Homo sapiens: one gene and its partners. The protein of the gene in region 1 interacts with the protein of each later gene in a pairwise test. Each region holds a gene or a part of one and is shown in the gene's direction. Other genes may lie near its edges.

What was found. The genes of interacting proteins can lie anywhere in the genome.
Region 2: the proteins of KCNJ6 (region 1) and AIG1 interact in binary tests that used the Homo sapiens proteins (3 or more experiments, as listed by UniProt).
Region 3: the proteins of KCNJ6 (region 1) and THSD7B interact in binary tests that used the Homo sapiens proteins (3 or more experiments, as listed by UniProt).

The regions. Positions count from the first base shown.
Region 1 is NC_000021.9:37,606,859-37,612,482, reverse strand, and holds the end of KCNJ6 (G protein-activated inward rectifier potassium channel 2), read left to right. Parts: 3' UTR 1-5,110; downstream 5,111-5,624. UniProt on the Homo sapiens protein: Inward rectifier potassium channels are characterized by a greater tendency to allow potassium to flow into the cell rather than out of it.
Region 2 is NC_000006.12:143,336,862-143,341,570, forward strand, and holds the end of AIG1 (androgen-induced gene 1 protein), read left to right. Parts: intron 1-1,116; coding exon of another isoform or gene 1,117-1,133; exon of another isoform or gene 1,134-2,777; coding exon 2,778-2,815; 3' UTR 2,816-4,197; downstream 4,198-4,709. UniProt on the Homo sapiens protein: Hydrolyzes bioactive fatty-acid esters of hydroxy-fatty acids (FAHFAs), but not other major classes of lipids. Show a preference for FAHFAs with branching distal from the carboxylate head group of the lipids.
Region 3 is NC_000002.12:137,671,518-137,678,230, forward strand, and holds the end of THSD7B (thrombospondin type-1 domain-containing protein 7B precursor), read left to right. Parts: intron 1-5,006; coding exon 5,007-5,088; 3' UTR 5,089-6,201; downstream 6,202-6,713.

The DNA.
Region 1 (5,624 bases):
AACAAAATAACTTGCTGAGATTTTTATTGGGATTGTATTTAATCTACAGAGGAAGCTGGGAAGTGACATCTTGACAATATTGAGTCCCTCCATGAAATGGAATATCTCTGTATTTACTTAGTTCTTCTTTGATATCATTCACCAGTTTTGTAGTTTTCCTCATGTAGATCTTATACATATTGTTAGATTTATACCTTAAGTACTTCATTTCAAGGGATACTAATTTAAATAATCATGTGCTTTTAATTTCAAATTTCACTTATTCATTGCCGGTATATAGGAAAACAATTGACTTTGTATATTAACTTTGAATCCTAAAATCTTGCTATAATCCCTTATTAGTTCCAGGAAGGTTCTGGGGCTTGTTTTTGTTTTGTTTTTTGGTCAGTTATTTCAGATTTTCTACATAGATGATCATGTCATCTGTAAACAAAGACAAAGTTTTATTTCTTCTTTCTTCCCAATCTATATATTTTTATTTCCTTTCCTTGTCTTATTGCATCAGCCAGGACTTCCAGTATCATGTTGAAAAGCAGTAGTGATGGGGACACCTTTTTTTTCCTGATCTTAGTGAGACAGCTTCAGGTTTCTCACCATCACGCCATTTAGTATGATGTTAGCTGTAAGGTTTTTTTTTTAGATATTGTTTATCAGGTTGAGGGGCTTCTCCTCTATTCCTGCTTTACTGAGTGTTTTTATCATGAAAGACTGTTTGGATTTTTCTGCATCTGTTGATATGATCATGCAATTTTTCTTCTTTTGCCTGTTGATATTCATTACATTAGTTGATCTTTGAATGTTGAACCAGCCTTATATACCTAGGACAAATTCCACCTGGTCATGGTGTTTAATTATTTTCATATATTGTTGGACTTGATTTGCTAATATTTTGTTGAGGATTTCTGCATCTATGCTTATGACAGGTATTGGTCTGTAGTTTTCTTGTAATGTCTTTGTCTGGTTTTGGTATTAAGGTGATGCTGGATTCATAGAATGAGTTAGCAAGTGTTCTCTCTGCTTCTAGCTTTTGAAAGAGATTGTAGATAATCAGTATCATTTCTTCCTTAAGTCTTTGGTAGAATTCACCAGTGAACCCATCTGGGCCAAGTGCTTTCTGGTTGGGGAGGTTACTAACCATTGATTCAAATTATTTAACAGAGATATACCTATTCAGATTGTCTATTTGCTCTTGTGTGAGTTTTGACAAATTCTATTTTTCAAGGAATTGGTTCATTTCATCTACATTATCAAATTTGTGGGTATAAAGTCATTCATAAAATTCCTTCATTATCTTTTATTATCCTTTTAACCTCCATGGGATTGCTAGTAACGTCCCCGCTCTCATTTCTGATAGTAGTAATTTGTGTTCTTTCTCTTTTTTTCTTAGTTAGCATGCCTTGAGACTTATGGAGCTTATTGATCTTTTCAAAGAATCAACTTTGTTTCTATTTATTTTATTGATTTCCTATTTTCAATTTCGTGAATTTTTAATCTAATTTTAATTATTTCTTCTCATTGGCTTACTTTGGGTTTAATTTGCTCTTTTTTTCTACTTTTTTAAAATGGAAACTTAAATGATTGATTTCAGATCTTCTTTTGTGCTATCTGCATTCAATGTTATAAATTTCCCTTTAAGCATTGTTTTTATTGCATCCCACAAATTATAATAAGCTATGTTTTTATTTTCATTTATTTCAAAATATTTTTTCACTTATCTTGAGATTTCTTCTTTGACCCATGATATTTACACGTGTGTTGTTTAATCTCCAAGTATTTTGGCATTTTCCAGCTACCTTTCTGTTACTGATTTCTAGCTTAATTCCATTGTTATCTAAGAGCAAACATTGTAGGACTTGTATTCCTTTTTTTTTTTTTTTTTTTTTTAAGACAGAGTCTCACTCTGTTGCCCAGGCTGGAGTAGAGTGGCATGATCTTGGCTCACTGCAACCTCTGCCTCCGGGGTTCAAGCGATTCTCCTGCCTCAGCCTCCCAAGTAGTTGGGACTACAGGTGCCCACCACCAAACCTGGCTAATTTTTGTATTTTTAATAGAGATGGGGTTTCAGCATGTTGGCCAGGCTGGTCTTGAACTCCTGATCCCAAGTGATCTGAGAATTTCTATTCTTTTAAATGTGTTAAGGTATGTTTTATGACCCAGAATGCAGTCTAACTTGATGAACATTCCATGCAAGCTTAAGCAAAAAGACTAATCTGCTGTAGTTTCCTCATCTTTTTCAACAAACATTTGAACCCCATAGTCTCTGCTTTAATAATTCTAGTATCCATTCCAACCTACACCACCATCAGTTCTAGACTGTACCTCTACACTAAATGACCCCAGATGGTTCAGCTTTAAGTCTCAGCTGTTTTCATCATTTAACTGATTCCCTTGCTGGCAGCAGGGAAATTAACTACCAGCCACACACTTGTCTCCAACAGCACCCACCGACCACGTCCTGCTCCCCTGTCATTACCACCACTAAACCCGGTAGCAGAGAGATGAGCTGTGAGGTAGGTGCCTTCTAGATAAATGAGGTGCTACTGGACATGCACTGTGGTCTTCTCTGCAGTAGAAAAATGTCCAAGGAAGGTCAGCATCATTGATAGAAAATAAATGTGAGGCTGCATCTCGCCAGCTCATCCATGAGCAATTCCTTCAGCTCCAGCAGGCTACTGACAATTTGCTTTTAACCCAAATCCAGCTCTACCCTCCCTAAAGCATGCACCTAGGGCCCCAGTCAGAAAAACAAAACAAAAACTAAACCAGACAGGATAATTAAGGAGGCAAAAAGCTTAAACCATAATATTTTAATTAAGCTGATTTATTTTAACCGTAGCACTACTGCTTTATTTTAGTTATATACCAGTAATGGAAAATAGTGGCCACTTTTCATTATTAATCATAAGATAATTCATTGTATTTGTCTTTCCTAATAAAATGGCATTATATTAAGGCCCAAAATGTTTACTATGGCCCAGTAAAATATAGGGTTGTTCTGTGAGCTATTTCTTAGGATAGAAAATTATTCCAGAAAGCTATTAGTTCAAAAGTCTCTAGCAGTGCCAAGGTTTCAATAGTCTCTTTAATTTTGAATCTATGCGATTGAAGATAAGACTGCATCTAGTTTGGGGGTTGCATGTTTGTGGACATTCATGTTTCTATGTACCTGGAACTTCTTATTCTCACCATCACACAGAATTTTCAAGAACTAGTTAAGCAAAGAAAGCAAAGCCCAGCAGGTGTCAGAATTGGGTCCCCAAGCTGAGGGTCATTAGGGTGCATGTCAGTGTGCCAACTCCAATATCCACACCTAGAGAACGCACATCTTCCCAAAAGAAATGAAGCACAGATGATACTTGATCCTCAACTTTGTCTCCAGAAATTTTTTCAGGAACTTGAGTTCTTTATCAAATGCTCACATCCTACAGAGAAATAAAGTGTTCCATTTTCAAGGTTCATGAAGCTCGTCAATGCTGGGAGCAGGCACACACTTGTATTTTTATACTCAGGGATCCCAACAGGCAACTAAAACTAGACAAGGACAAAACTCCACTCAAAATATTCTGAAAGTTAGCTGATGCCCCATATTTTATTACTCCAAATGTGTATTCACTTGCCTGAGTGCTGGCCATGAGCACTCAGTGAACACTTGCAGTACAGTGAGTGATGTCCTTGACAAGTTACTATGAAGACTCTGAGAAAAAGTAACATCCCCCACTGTCCTCAACAAGCCTGTAATCCCATGGCTGCCAGCCCTTACCATGCAACAACACTGCGCTAAGTGCATCGAACCACACAAAACCCTGTGAGAAAATACTGCTTCCCACTTCACACGTGAAGTAACTGAGTCTAGTTTTAGAAATACCTAAACGAAGAGGGACAGGCACAACAAATTTGCTGGAATGTAAAGAAAGTAGATCAGTTTCTGCGTAAGCAGTAAGAAATGGCCTCATGAGGAAGAAAGGGACATTTGCCCTGACATTTCTCAAAGACTGCTTAGGTTTTGGAGACAGAGATCCAAGGGCAGGCAAGCACAATGGTTCATGCCTGTAATTCCAGCACTTTGAGAGGCCAAGGTGGGAGGATTGCTTGAGCCCAGGAATTCAAGATTAGCCTGTGCAACACAGCAAGACCCCATCTCTATTTTAAAAAGAGAGAGAGAGATCCAAAAGCAAAGGCATTTCAGTTTGCAAGGCCAGCATGGGAGAGGGTCTTAAAACAGAAACACACAAGGTAAGATTGGGGGATGGTACCTAGACCAGCCTAGGATCATAGGATTTGATAAAATATGCATTTGGAAAACTGGTGCTAATTTATAGAGACTTAGAATTTCAGGCTAAGGACAAGGACTAAGAAACGAATAGCATGAACAGTATTATTGATAAACCCATCATTGCATCTTAAAGGCTCTGAAGTCTTTAGTATTGAATTAAAAAATAATTTTCACTGGACAAAACCAAAAGGTCTTTACACAACTGTCAAGCACTTTGAAATGATTCAGCAAAAAGCAGAATAAATCACTAGTGGAATTTCAATAGCATGTAGTTGTAAACCATCATGTGTCCAGCAAAATCACAAAACAAGAGTTTATTTTAGAAGGGACTTAGGGATATTAAGAAATATAACATACAAAATAACTAAAGTTTTCTCCAAGCAAAACCAATGATCCTTTAGGGATGAACAGAAAGAAAACAAGAAATGCTTCTTTCAAAAGTTGCTACCAAGGCTTCTAAGATTTCTTTGGAATAAAGTCACTAAGATTTGCTTCTGAGGTCAATCTTGCCAACTTTTCCACCATGCTTTTTAGGAAGGAACACCAGGTAGGGCTCAAGTACTGGTTTGGCTCCTGTCCCATTTTTTGGTCCTTTTGTAACTCCCTTTACTCAACTCCAAGTATGTCTGTGCACGGACAATGAGACGAAAGCATGCTCAATGCGAAAGCACAAATTATGTATTGAGAAATCACTACAATGCCAAATTTTTTTAAAATAAAAAAAAAATATATATATATATATATATCTTTAAGAACTCGCTGTGTTAGGGAAACTGTTTACATATTGAGGTGTTCCTCTTTTTTTGACTGGAACAATAAAAGAAAAATTTGATATGGCCTTGGTTTCTTTTTTATGTGTGTCTGTGTCCAAAGAAGTCGGCCTTTTCTACAAGTGAGAGCATGAATTGTTTCAAAGCGCAACACCCTGCCCCAGGGCCACTCAAGATGTCAGGCATATCAGGCATAACCCAAGGATAGTACCATGGGTTTGGAGTGATCTTCTCTCTTCTTCCCTCCCACTCTTCCTCTCTCTCCATCTCTTTCTTTCTCTCCCTAACTCTCTTGCTCCCTTTCCTCCTTCTCGCTCTCCCCCTCCTGTCTCTTTCCCCATCTCTCCCACAATGTTCTGCCTATGGCCAGATCCCAGCAATGGGTCAGCTCCGCTCCTTTCCACACCTACTGACCCAAGTGGGACTCCTTTGATACCTGTTTGTACCTTGCACTTCATGGAACTTGAAAAAAACGAAAGGGAATTAGGGACTTGCAGAGCAGTTGATCCTGCCCCTTGTCACAGCTCTAAGAGTCTTAATAAAAGGAGTTTGATCATTCATGATAAAGTTCCATGTTGGAC
Region 2 (4,709 bases), on another chromosome or scaffold:
ACAGAATGGTGGGACAGGCATAGAATATACATTCCCATTCTGTAAGGGAGAAGTTGCAGGGGGAAAAAAAAAGAAAGAATCATGGTTCCCAAGCAAGTCTGAAGCTAGCGGGGGAAATTCCATTCCATTTTAAGGCTTGAAAATAATCCTCTTTGGCTAGATGTTCTGTCCTCAGGGCTCACAGGGGAGGGGATGCATAGCCCTGCCTTCCAGGCACAGGGTCACAGGAGCCCCACCCCCACAGCCCTGGGCAATAGTTCTACCCTCTACAACCAAGGAGGAGCCAGTCGCTGAACCATCTTTGAAGCCATTGGTCCTTCATTTCATCCTGTCTCTGTCCCTTTCAGTCCATGCTGTCAATGTTTCTGCTGGTATAAAATTCTCAAAAACCTTATTGGCCTCCCATGCAAGTCATGGGGGTCCAAGCAGTCAGACAAGAGGGCACTCCGCGGATCTTTTTCAGATAACCACCTCTCTATTTCTGGCATCTACTGTGGAGGTTGATTGGATCCGTGAGTCACGTACCTAATTTCGTTAGCACATGGCTGTCCAGCCACACCCTTGGCATTCTCTCCCAATCTGAGGTACTGAGAGTTAAGCACTTCGATGTAGCAGTTTGGCGGGGTGGAGCGCGGGGGGGGACACAATTCACAGCTGAAATATTTCTTTACTTAAGCTAAGACTTTATCCCAATTTTGGTATATCTGACCAGTCTTACTAAAGCTACATTTTGTAAGACCAGAAATGAGTCTTTTCAAAACCAAAAGGTTGGTGTGAGGACAGAGAAAGTAGGCAAGCGGGGAGACAGGAGACGTCTATGTGTGCAGAAACCTGCACCTCTTCTCCTCCAGCTACCCGTGCAGGTCATTTCCCCCCAGGCCCATCCAGGTCTAGCGATGTCCCAGCACTGCCCCCTGGTGGAGCCCTCCACCGGCCTGCAGGAAGGGCATGTGACTGACTCCCTCAGCGCCCTGCAGTCTTGTCCCCTCTGGTCCCAAAAGTGTATCCTGCCTTCGCTTTGCGATAGGTTTCTTCCTGCCCTTTGCCTGGAAATTTTATCTCTGGTTCTTGCAAACATTATTTACAGCTGTCTAATTTTTTCTGTCTACCTCACAGCTGCCAAACTAAAGTAGGTGGGAAGCCATTTTCCCTCTCTAGGTCAATGAATACCCCCCGTTCTCCACCCGCGCTTTTGAAGATTCCAGCACTGCTGCCAAGTCAACCCATCTGCAGGAGAACGCTTTGGAAAAAACAGACTTTAAAAAGAAAAGCAAACTGCTCTTAGCCCCTGATAGCTTCTCCACAGGAGAGGGAATATGGACAGAGCTGAGGTTCAAGACACATGTGCTGTTTGAGCTGAATCTGTGCTGTTTTCTTCTTTCCGTGGTTACCCAACAACGAAGGCGTGTTGTACCTTCTTGCCTTCAAACCTGTTCCTCCTCCCGTCAGATGTCCTTACTCCTCAATTTGAAGTTTTCCTTCATAGGATTTCTGAGAAGGACTTTGGAAAAAGTGCTCCAGATCTCTGCCAGTTCCTTAGCCATGAAAACCAAACATAAAAGATCATCTGGGGACATTCATTCAGAGCACGTTACCCACATTCCACCACCACTACTCTGACAGCACAAAACATATACCAGGAGCTGGGGTTATGTGGTGGGGGAGTCCTTCCTATTGTAAGCCCTAACATTATGACCCTCTGGGGTTAAATTTTATAATTTTCATATTGTGGAGTCCCATATTTTGTTCTGCTTTCCACTAGTCCAGGCTTCTGAGGTCTTCTCTGTGTTCATTGCTTATTAATTTTATTCAGCAAAGATTAATTGAGCTCCTGCAATGAGACACACACACTATGTTAGGTGCTGGGGAACAAAATAGGGAAGGGCCCTACCCTCAGAAAGCTTGCAATTTATGAAAGAATACTAACAAAACCTGCAAAGTGGTATTTTAAGTTATTTTGTTTCATTTTTGCTATTGAAACAAAGAAACTGAGAATTTGGTATGATTCAAAAAATGTTTAGGTACAAGAAAAAGAAAAAAGCAAGAAGCACTTGCCAGATTTAACTATAATTCCTAAAAATGATGAACATTTTCATCTTCAGGAACATGAAACATCATCGACTATTCTCTACAGACAACAGGCAAAGGTTCTTACTGGTCCAGTACATACAAGTCCTTCAGGAAGAAAAACATGATTCTACCAGGATTGGGTTGAATAGAGAGAGAATTGCAGTTTAAGATTCATGAGTATGGAAATAAACAGCTCTTATGGCTAATAAACTCTCTATGAACTTTAAAAAGAAAACAAGAAAAAAAAAAGCATGGCTTTTTAAAATCCAAAGTCCTTGCCTTAGGAAGAGACAGGACTAAAGTAAAAATAAATGAAGTCTGTTTGAAACTCATGAGTTGCACACCTCATGTTGCCAGAAGCTGGTTTAAAAAGCAGTCTAGCTGGGATTTCCATGCAAACTCAGCAAGTCATGAATCAACTTGAAGCCTTGTCTCCCAGAGGCCATAGGAGCTGGGTGTGTCCCAGAGATGCTGTGTCCTGATTCTGTGGAAAGGGTGGGGAAGAGAGGTCACTGAGGATGTTTCTGGAGAAAGTTGTGCATGGCTTTCCTTCTTAGCTAGGAGGGAATAGGGGGTGTGTCAGGAGGGTGAATGGGAGAAGTGAGGGCAGATGAGTGGATGTGTGAGTAGTGTTAGCAAGCCAGATTAAACAAACTGCTTGTGGTTTAATCTGATGCTCAAATAAAACACTTTGCCTGTATTTCTAGGTATGGAAGAAGAGAAAGAAAAGCCTAAATTGGAATGAGATCCAAGTCTAAACGCAAGAGCTAGATTGAGCCGCCATTGAAGACTCCTTCCCCTCGGGCATTGGCAGTGGGGGAGAAAAGGCTTCAAAGGAACTTGGTGGCATCAGCACCCCCCTCCCCCAATGAGGACACCTTTTATATATAAATATGTATAAACATAGAATACAGTTGTTTCCAAAAGAACTCACCCTCACTGTGTGTTAAAGAATTCTTCCCAAAGTCATTACTGATAATAACATTTTTTCCTTTTCTAGTTTTAAAACCAGAATTGGACCTTGGATTTTTATTTTGGCAATTGTAACTCCATCTAATCAAGAAAGAATAAAAGTTTATTGCACTTCTTTTTGAGAAATATGTTAAAGTCAAAGGGGCATATATAGAGTAAGGCTTTTGTGTATTTAATCCTAAAGGTGGCTGTAATCATGAACCTAGGCCACCATGGGGACCTGAGAGGGAAGGGGACAGATGTTTCTCATTGCATAATGTCACAGTTGCCTCAAATGAGCACCATTTGTAATAATGATGTCAATTTCATGAAAAGCCTGAGTGTATTGCATCTCTTGATTTAATCATGTGAAACTTTTCCTAGATGCAAATGCTGACTAATAAAGACAAAGCCACCCTGAACCTGACGTCTGCATTGTGCATCTCAAAATCCTAACAGCATTAGTATCTCCTTTTCATTTTTATTACCTGTTGAAAATGGGTTTACTGAACCTGGTTCTTTCCTATAATTTTTGGATTTTAAAAAATGTGAATCTTTTTGATAACTCCAAAACAAATTTTTTTTTTCTTTTTTTCCAGATGGAGTCTCACTCTGTCGCCCAGGCTGGAGTACAGTGGCGTGATCTCAGCTCACGGCAAGCTCCGCTTCCCGGGTTCATGCCATTCTCCTGCCTTCTCAGCCTCCCGAGTAGCTGGGACTACAGGCGCCTGCCACACGCCCGGCTTATTTTTTGTATTTTTAGTAGAGACGGGGTTTCACCTTGTTAGCCAGGATGGTCTCGATCTCCTGACCTTGTGATCCACACGCCTCGGCCTCCCAAAGTGCTGGGATTACAGACATGAACCACCGCGCCCAGCCACAAAATTGTTTTTAAAAAAACTATTTTACAAAATCTTTGACCGTAATTATTTTTAAGATGAAAAATATGTTATATAAATTATAAAATGTTACTTAACACAAATATAAGTATTGATTGCCCAATGTTGAGAGAGATCAACAAATGATATAAAACCATTCACTCCAAAATTATAATTACATTTTAAAATTAAAAAATGAAAAGCATTAAACTTTTTAATTTGAAAAAAATTTAAACTCAAAAAGTTAATTTAAAATTAGTTACATTTAAATGTAATTAAATGCTAAAAATCTCTCTTCCTTCCGTCTCTCTGTCTCTCTCTTTCTCCCACACACATTCACTCTATATGCCCCCCATTTCTGAAAGCAAAATTGATAGAAATATAGAATGCATCTAGCAGCATTACCATATTAGTTTCCTAACTCATGGAGCTGGGACTTTTAAGTAGGAAAGTCAAGCAGAAATCCACCAAAACAGAAAAGCACAGCAATACCACATCCTTGGAATGACTGCTGCAGTTAGTACAGGATCAAAGACTTGAAGGATCCAGAGTTGGTTTCCATCACAACTACATGTATCTTACCTGTCTGACCTCTATTATGGGTTACATTGTGGCACTGTGTCCCCCTAAAATTTATATGTTGAACCCGTAACCCCTAGTGCCTTAGAATATGACTGTTTTTGGAGACAGGGCCTTTAAAGAGGGGATTAAGTTAAAATGAGGCCATTAAAATGGGCCCTAATCCAATCTGAGTAGTATCTTTGTAAAAAGGGGGAATTAGGACACACAAAGGGACACCAGGAATGTACA
Region 3 (6,713 bases), on another chromosome or scaffold:
ATGGCCCAAGGCAAAGGAGAAACAGGCACCTTCTTCACAGAGCAGCAGAATGGATTGAGTGCTGAGAGTAGGGGAAAAAGCCCCTTATAAAACCATCACATCTTTTGACAACTCACTCGCTATCATGAGAACACCATGGGGGAAGCGATGATTCAGTTACCTCCACCTAGTTTCTCTCTTCACATGTGGGGATTATGGGGTTTATAGGGATTACAACTCAAGATGAGATTTAGGTGGAGAAACAAAGCCTAACCGTATCAGGCACTTAGGGTACTGCCCCTCTAATTTTCCAAGGACGTTTCTGCTTCTGTGGCTTACTCCTTGTTTCCCCTTGCTAGCTATTGGTACTCTACCTGTTCATTAATCCCTGTAAAACTCAAATACCAACATTTTCCTTTTTAAACAGTCTGGAATAACTTGTTCATGTCTCTTTTGTCGTGGTAGTTACCCCATGATTGATAATATTGTAGTTATTTATATAAACATCTTCCTCCTCTATCAAACTCCAGGGAGTTTGGGTGGGGAGAGGTAATGACTATGCTTTATGGATTGTTTTAAAGCATGAATTTGATAAAGATTTATTGAGCAAATATATAAAATGTATTAGTATAAACTAATTTATTGCCCGTGATTTTTAGAAAAACAGTATAGGAAAAAAAATCTAATATTTATATGTCAAATATTACATACATTGCCTTATTCAATCATAATAATTCAAGGAGGTGTTGCTATTGCCATCCCTATTTTAAAGAGTAATTGATCCGTAGTGAAATTATATAACTTTTCTGAGGTCACCAGCATGGTAGAATCAACCCCAGGTTTGCCTCTCCCTAGAGTTTGCCTATCCCTAGAGTTCATGCTCTTTCTACTGGTCTTTGAGTCATTGTGATTTCTTTCTCTTGAGTGATGCCCAAAACTCTTTAGACTCAACATAATGTCTATAGCTTCCACATTTCCTAGAGGATTTTTGTTTCACAGGTAAAGTAAGCTGTTGACCTATTACAGACCTATTGTTATAAAAACACGTACCTTTTACTGTTACATATGAGCCGCCAAAGAAACCCAAATAGATATTTTCACAGCATCTAATTCTATTAAATGGATTGCAGAAGAGTTACAGGATGACAGTTTTAGAGATTTTATATTTTTGCCAAAAACAGAAGCCTTAGGACAAGAGAACTGCTATAATATGCCAGGTCTTTGGTGTATACTTCAGATGAAAGCAATTTATAGTAAAACTTGAAAATGCTTCTGAGAAAATGTCAAAAAAATAGCCTTCTAAAGACTACTTCTTTCAAATACTAGCCTTTGAACATCTACCATTAGTGTTTGGAGTTTCAGAAATATTATTGATGCCCCTTCTCCTCTGGCAGTAAATATCCATGAAGCAATTTAATGGGGATGACCACTGGATGAACTTGCTGTTAACCTAGATGTAGCACCTGGAAGTTACACCAGATAATAATGTCCATTCTGCCTGGCCCAGCACAGTTCTGTAATGCATTCTTATTCTTCCCAAGTTTGAGAGTGGTACTTGCACCTCCAAAGGCTTGTCTCTCACAAATGGCTGCCAAAACAAAATGTGGTTTGCTGCTTTCATCAAACTAGTTAATCTCTCCTGGCTTGAGAATGAGTCCTTGCTGAGAAGTGCCAGAGGCTTGCTTGTCAGTCCACAATGAGCTCACTTTTCTGGCTTAATTCATTTTTGTCCTTTGCTAAAATGCAAATGACCCTAAAAGAGGTAACTTTAAAATGTGTCTGCCAGTGATCTTTCACAGCTAGGATTGCAAAATGGTTTTATGCTGTGTGCCAACTCTAAAAGTGGCTATGGCTGTCAAGAGTGCTGTTAGGAAGAATGATGAGGCTACACCTCAGCTCAACAGGAGAGAATAGAGTGATGGATTAGAGATGTCCACCTGGGCACAGGATGACTGGTGGTGTTGGTGGCATATGTGCCAGGCATTTATGGGTCCTGATTTAGTGAGTGAGGGAGGTGAACATACCTTTTCTGAAACCAGAGTGGAGGAGGAAAAAATAAGAAATAAACTTACTTCTAAAGGAAAAATGTGGATACTGTAGGGAGAAAGGAAAGCAAGCCAGAGGTTCTAAAGACAAGCCTCCTAGTTGCTGGCCTCCTCAGTGTTGGCCTTGCTGAGTGCAGTCTTGCCCCTCAGCTCCTCCTCCTGAGGTTCTTTTTTACTGGCCAGAAAGCCTTGCTAAGCTGCTATTCGGCAAAGTACTACCATGTTCAGTGGTCCAGAGATTAATATTTGAGAGGAGGCTGATCTATTCAAAGCCATAAAACTTCTCAGATCTCATGTATTCGTAACTGTGATTTTGGTGTCTGGCAATTGGGAGGTTGCACAATATGAAAAGATGCTTGATAAATGAGGTCCTAATCCCAATGATCCCCAGCACACCACATGGCCCACAAAGGTCCAAGGCCTACCTATTAGTAGCCCCCGCTGGCCACAGTGTCCGTGATTCCAAACATGGTAAGTGGTATAAACATATTTGTGTAAATTTTGAATAGAATATTCCAAGCCTAGATCATAGAGGCTGGCCAAGTTGACGTGTCTCCCAGGTGATAGTATTGTCTCTTTATAGAGATATGACCACCTCTAGCCGTTCTCCTGGCTTTGCATTCTCAACTCCCCAATGCTTAGGATTGTCTAATTTCTCCTTGCCCAGTGGCCTTTAGCAAATGCCCATTAAAGGTAGACTGCCAAAATCTCTGTTTTGGAAGCAACTACATTTCTTACCCCTCTCTTCTTCTTTGCTCCCTTCCCGCAGAAAAAAGAAAACCAAGAGAGGTGGGAGGGAGAAGACTCCTACTGTAATTTCAGATGAACTTCCTTGTACTCTTTTTTGCCATTAAGACAACCCACCCCATCACCACCACCACCATCAGGTTTTACAGGCTGTCACTTTCAGATTGCCTCACCCTCTGGTGTGTGCATGATTTCTTAGCACCTTTAAATGCTGTGGAATGGTATACCCAGGACTCCATGTCAAGTGGGGTTCATGCCAGAGCCTGAGCCCATCAGTATAATTAGAGTCACTGGAACATACTTAGTATAGATAAAGTTAAATTGAATGTTATTCAGATAATTAAGCAATACCCTTTTGAAAATTGGAGAGGACCTGGAAAGCAGGAAATTGAAGGCTGAAGCTCCCTCTGGAGAATATTCTGAATCTTGTTTTTGCATCTCCGCAGCTTCTCTGGTTGGAAGTTGTTTGCCTGCAGCCATCTCTGCCCAGCACTCAGCATATTCTCAATGAGCACCCGCTGCATGCCAGGTGCTAGGGTGGGGGGCACTGAGAGAATCTGCAGTTCCTTTTAGGGTTTCTGCCAAAACCATTTTTAATTTATTTCTTTAACTTGTATGATTTGCTTCAAACATCAATCAAAAAAATAATTTTACTCCTCAAATTAAAACTTGAGCATTTTAAACTAGGAGTTTCTCCCTACAACCATTTTAATTTTATCAACTTTTTATTGCAGTAAAATTCACATAACATAAAATTCACAATTTTAGCCATTAAGTGTAAGAAGCCAGACACAATAGACCAGATACAGCATGATTCCATTTAAGATATCAAAATCTATTTGGGCAGAAAGTTAATTGATGAATGGCTACCAGGGGCTGAGAGCAGGGTGAAATGGGGGAGGGACTGCTTGGAAGAGTGCAGAGTTGCCTTTTGGCACGATGAAAATGTTCTGGAGCTAGATAATGGTGATGGTACACATGCTGTGACTGCCAAATGCCACTGAATTGTATAGATTAAAATCTTTGTTTTTTACGTTAGATTCACTCAGAATACAAAAATTAATTCATATGTGCAGACAAAAAATGTCATTTCTACCAAGTGCTAAATGAATGCCATATATATATATATATATATATATATATATATATATATATATATGCGGACAGTGTGGTGAAAAGGTTAAAAGCTCAGGTCTGTGTGTTAGATTTGCTTAGAATTCAGGTTCTGCCACTCACTCAGTGACCTAAGGGAAGGTAAACAGCCTTGGTAGTCCTTCTCTGTAAAGTAGCAATAATTCTAATGCCTCCCTTGCAGGGTTGTTCTGGGATGTTTTGAGAGATTTTGTGTAAAACATTCAGCACAGATCTTGGCACTTAGTATGCATCGAATAAGCAATAGATGCTAATATAATATAAAAGCATGGAAGGTTGGAGACAGGGAGAGAGATGAAGCCGGGCTGTGTGGGCAGGGCAAAGCAAAGACCTTGAGGAGAGAGGATAAGTGTGGTGGTGAGAGAAGTTAAGTGGCAGAATTAAAGGTTACAAGCATTTATAAATACAAGTTAAGATTTCCCCATACTAAGAAACAAGAAGTGTACTGCAGGGTGTTTTGCCCCATATCTTGGGCATCACTGTGTGATTTGGGAATGTTGTTAACTTAAGCTTTTCTCTCCATGAGAAGGAAAAGCAGCCTTCTCTGACCTGGCAAAGTTGTGGACTTCAGGTAAAGCAGAGACCAGGTGAGAATGGCTTTGCACGGAGTAGAATTGGTTAAATTTTCCTGACACACTCTGGCATCTTGGCAGCTAAATGTCAGGTTCCAGGTCAGAGCAGAAGTGTGTTTACTTAAAAACAAGACCAGCAGGGTGAGGCCTGGCTGCTCCAGCTGCTTATGATGTTGAGCATCTGTGATGTGAAGGTCACAATAGCTTAAAAATTAGTGAGAAAAGACGTTCCTGTTGTTGTGTATCATCAAGAATATAAAAGGAAAACAACTCTTCTACTAAGTTCCTTCATTCCACTAAACCAATTTTAAGATTGTGAAAAATGATGGCTTCTCCTTAACAAACAGAGGGTGAAAGCATTCAATATTCACAAAAGGGAACCCACACATCTAGAGAAATGAATCTTTTTGTCATTTTACCGCTTAAATTTCTGTATCTCAAAATTGTCTTTGGCAGATGAAACAGAGCTCTATGAACTTACTTGATCTGAGGAATTTTTTTCCCTTTGCAGCAAGAAGCCAAAACCACATCAAAGCACACCTCCCCAACAGAAGCCTCTGACCTTAGCCTACGATGGAGACTTAGACATGTAATCTGAAAAAGAAATCCAAATGTAGACATCAACTGCCTTAACCGCTTTCTCTTTTGTAGCTCTCAGACTTCTCAGTTTTTTGAGGAATCTCAAGATGTGATATATTGGGCAGAATACAAATATTGCAAAAGTAATATTGCCTCAACTTCATTTGGACATGGAGTCAAGGATTATTAGGTCTGCCATTTTGTTTTCAAGTTGTTTGTGGGTGTGTTTTATTTTTTTGGTTTTCCCAAGGGACCTGAAAACCCTTCTCTTCCTGTTTGGAACTGGGAGGAAGAAAACATGATGGAATTCCCACAGACTTGAGTAAACTTGATCTTCAGCAGCATAATGACAATCCAGAGGAAAATACAGTCAAGGCATTTACTCTAAATGACGAGTCTGACACTGCATTGTTACGCACTATATTAGTGCAAAGTCTTTATTCTTCCCATACTTCAACACTGAGTTTTCTAGAGTTTACTTTGGTTTAAAGACTTTCAAATTGGATTGCCTATTTTTCATGAACACAGAGAGAATGGATTACCATTTCAGAAATTCTCTGAGTTTTTAACCTTTAAATATTGTATTTTGTTTTGTAGCCAGGGGATGATGGCGCTTCATGGGTTGCAGCTACTGAAAATAGCAGCGTGTGTGTAATTGCTGGACTAGATGAAAGCTAGGTCATTTCTGAAGGGAATGTGTACTGAATGTTAGAGTGTACAAATGAAATATGTGGTTAAATTGGAGAATGAGGTAGATTATTTGATTACTAAAACTGTATTTTAACAAAAACTTATCCATGTAGATATAGCATTAACCACACACAGTTGTAATTCAGTTTAATGATGACAAACTCTGCTTTTGTAATTTCAATTTTCTTATCTGAATATTTATAAATTCTTCTTTCAAATTTAATTATCTGACCTCATTTAATATACATCAAACACCGATCCTGTTTGTACAAAGTCTTGCTTTTATAAGGTTTCAATAATATCTAAAACAACACATTAAAAAGCTGAGACCATTTTATGAAGATAATTGTTTGTAATCATAGGTGTTGAAAGTAAAAAGGTGCCATCTTGTGGTATTGACTTGTATTTATAACAAATAAACTGCTCAAGAGACTGCAGTGTTGGCTGTTCTAGATTTATTCACTTCTGAAGTGCCTTGCCCTTGCTTTGACAAAAACAGTATTAATATCAGTTTTTCAGTGTTTTGGGGGTTGACAGCTGCTATCACTGACAAAAACAAAAAAAGGAATCTTACCCCTCCACACTATCAGGCATACTAGGAAACAGCGCCAGTCACAATGACATAGAGTAGCTTTTAGGGAACATTTAGAGCTCAAATAATATTAGAAAAAACCGCTGTAATCATGCAAACACTGATATGTAAATGATGTGAGAGAAGGAAGAAAATGGAAATGTTAGAAATGTGACACAACGACCAGATTAAAGGATGTTTTCATTTACACTGTAACCTCTATTAACCATTTAACACCTAGGTAAGCCCTCCAACTAGCTGATTGTGTGCAATGATATACCATAATTTTAAAATAAGAAAGCAAAAAGAGAATACTTTACTTTATTTTACTAGTATACTTGAGAAAACAATTCCCAGAATTGTGCTTTCAAAAGTTCA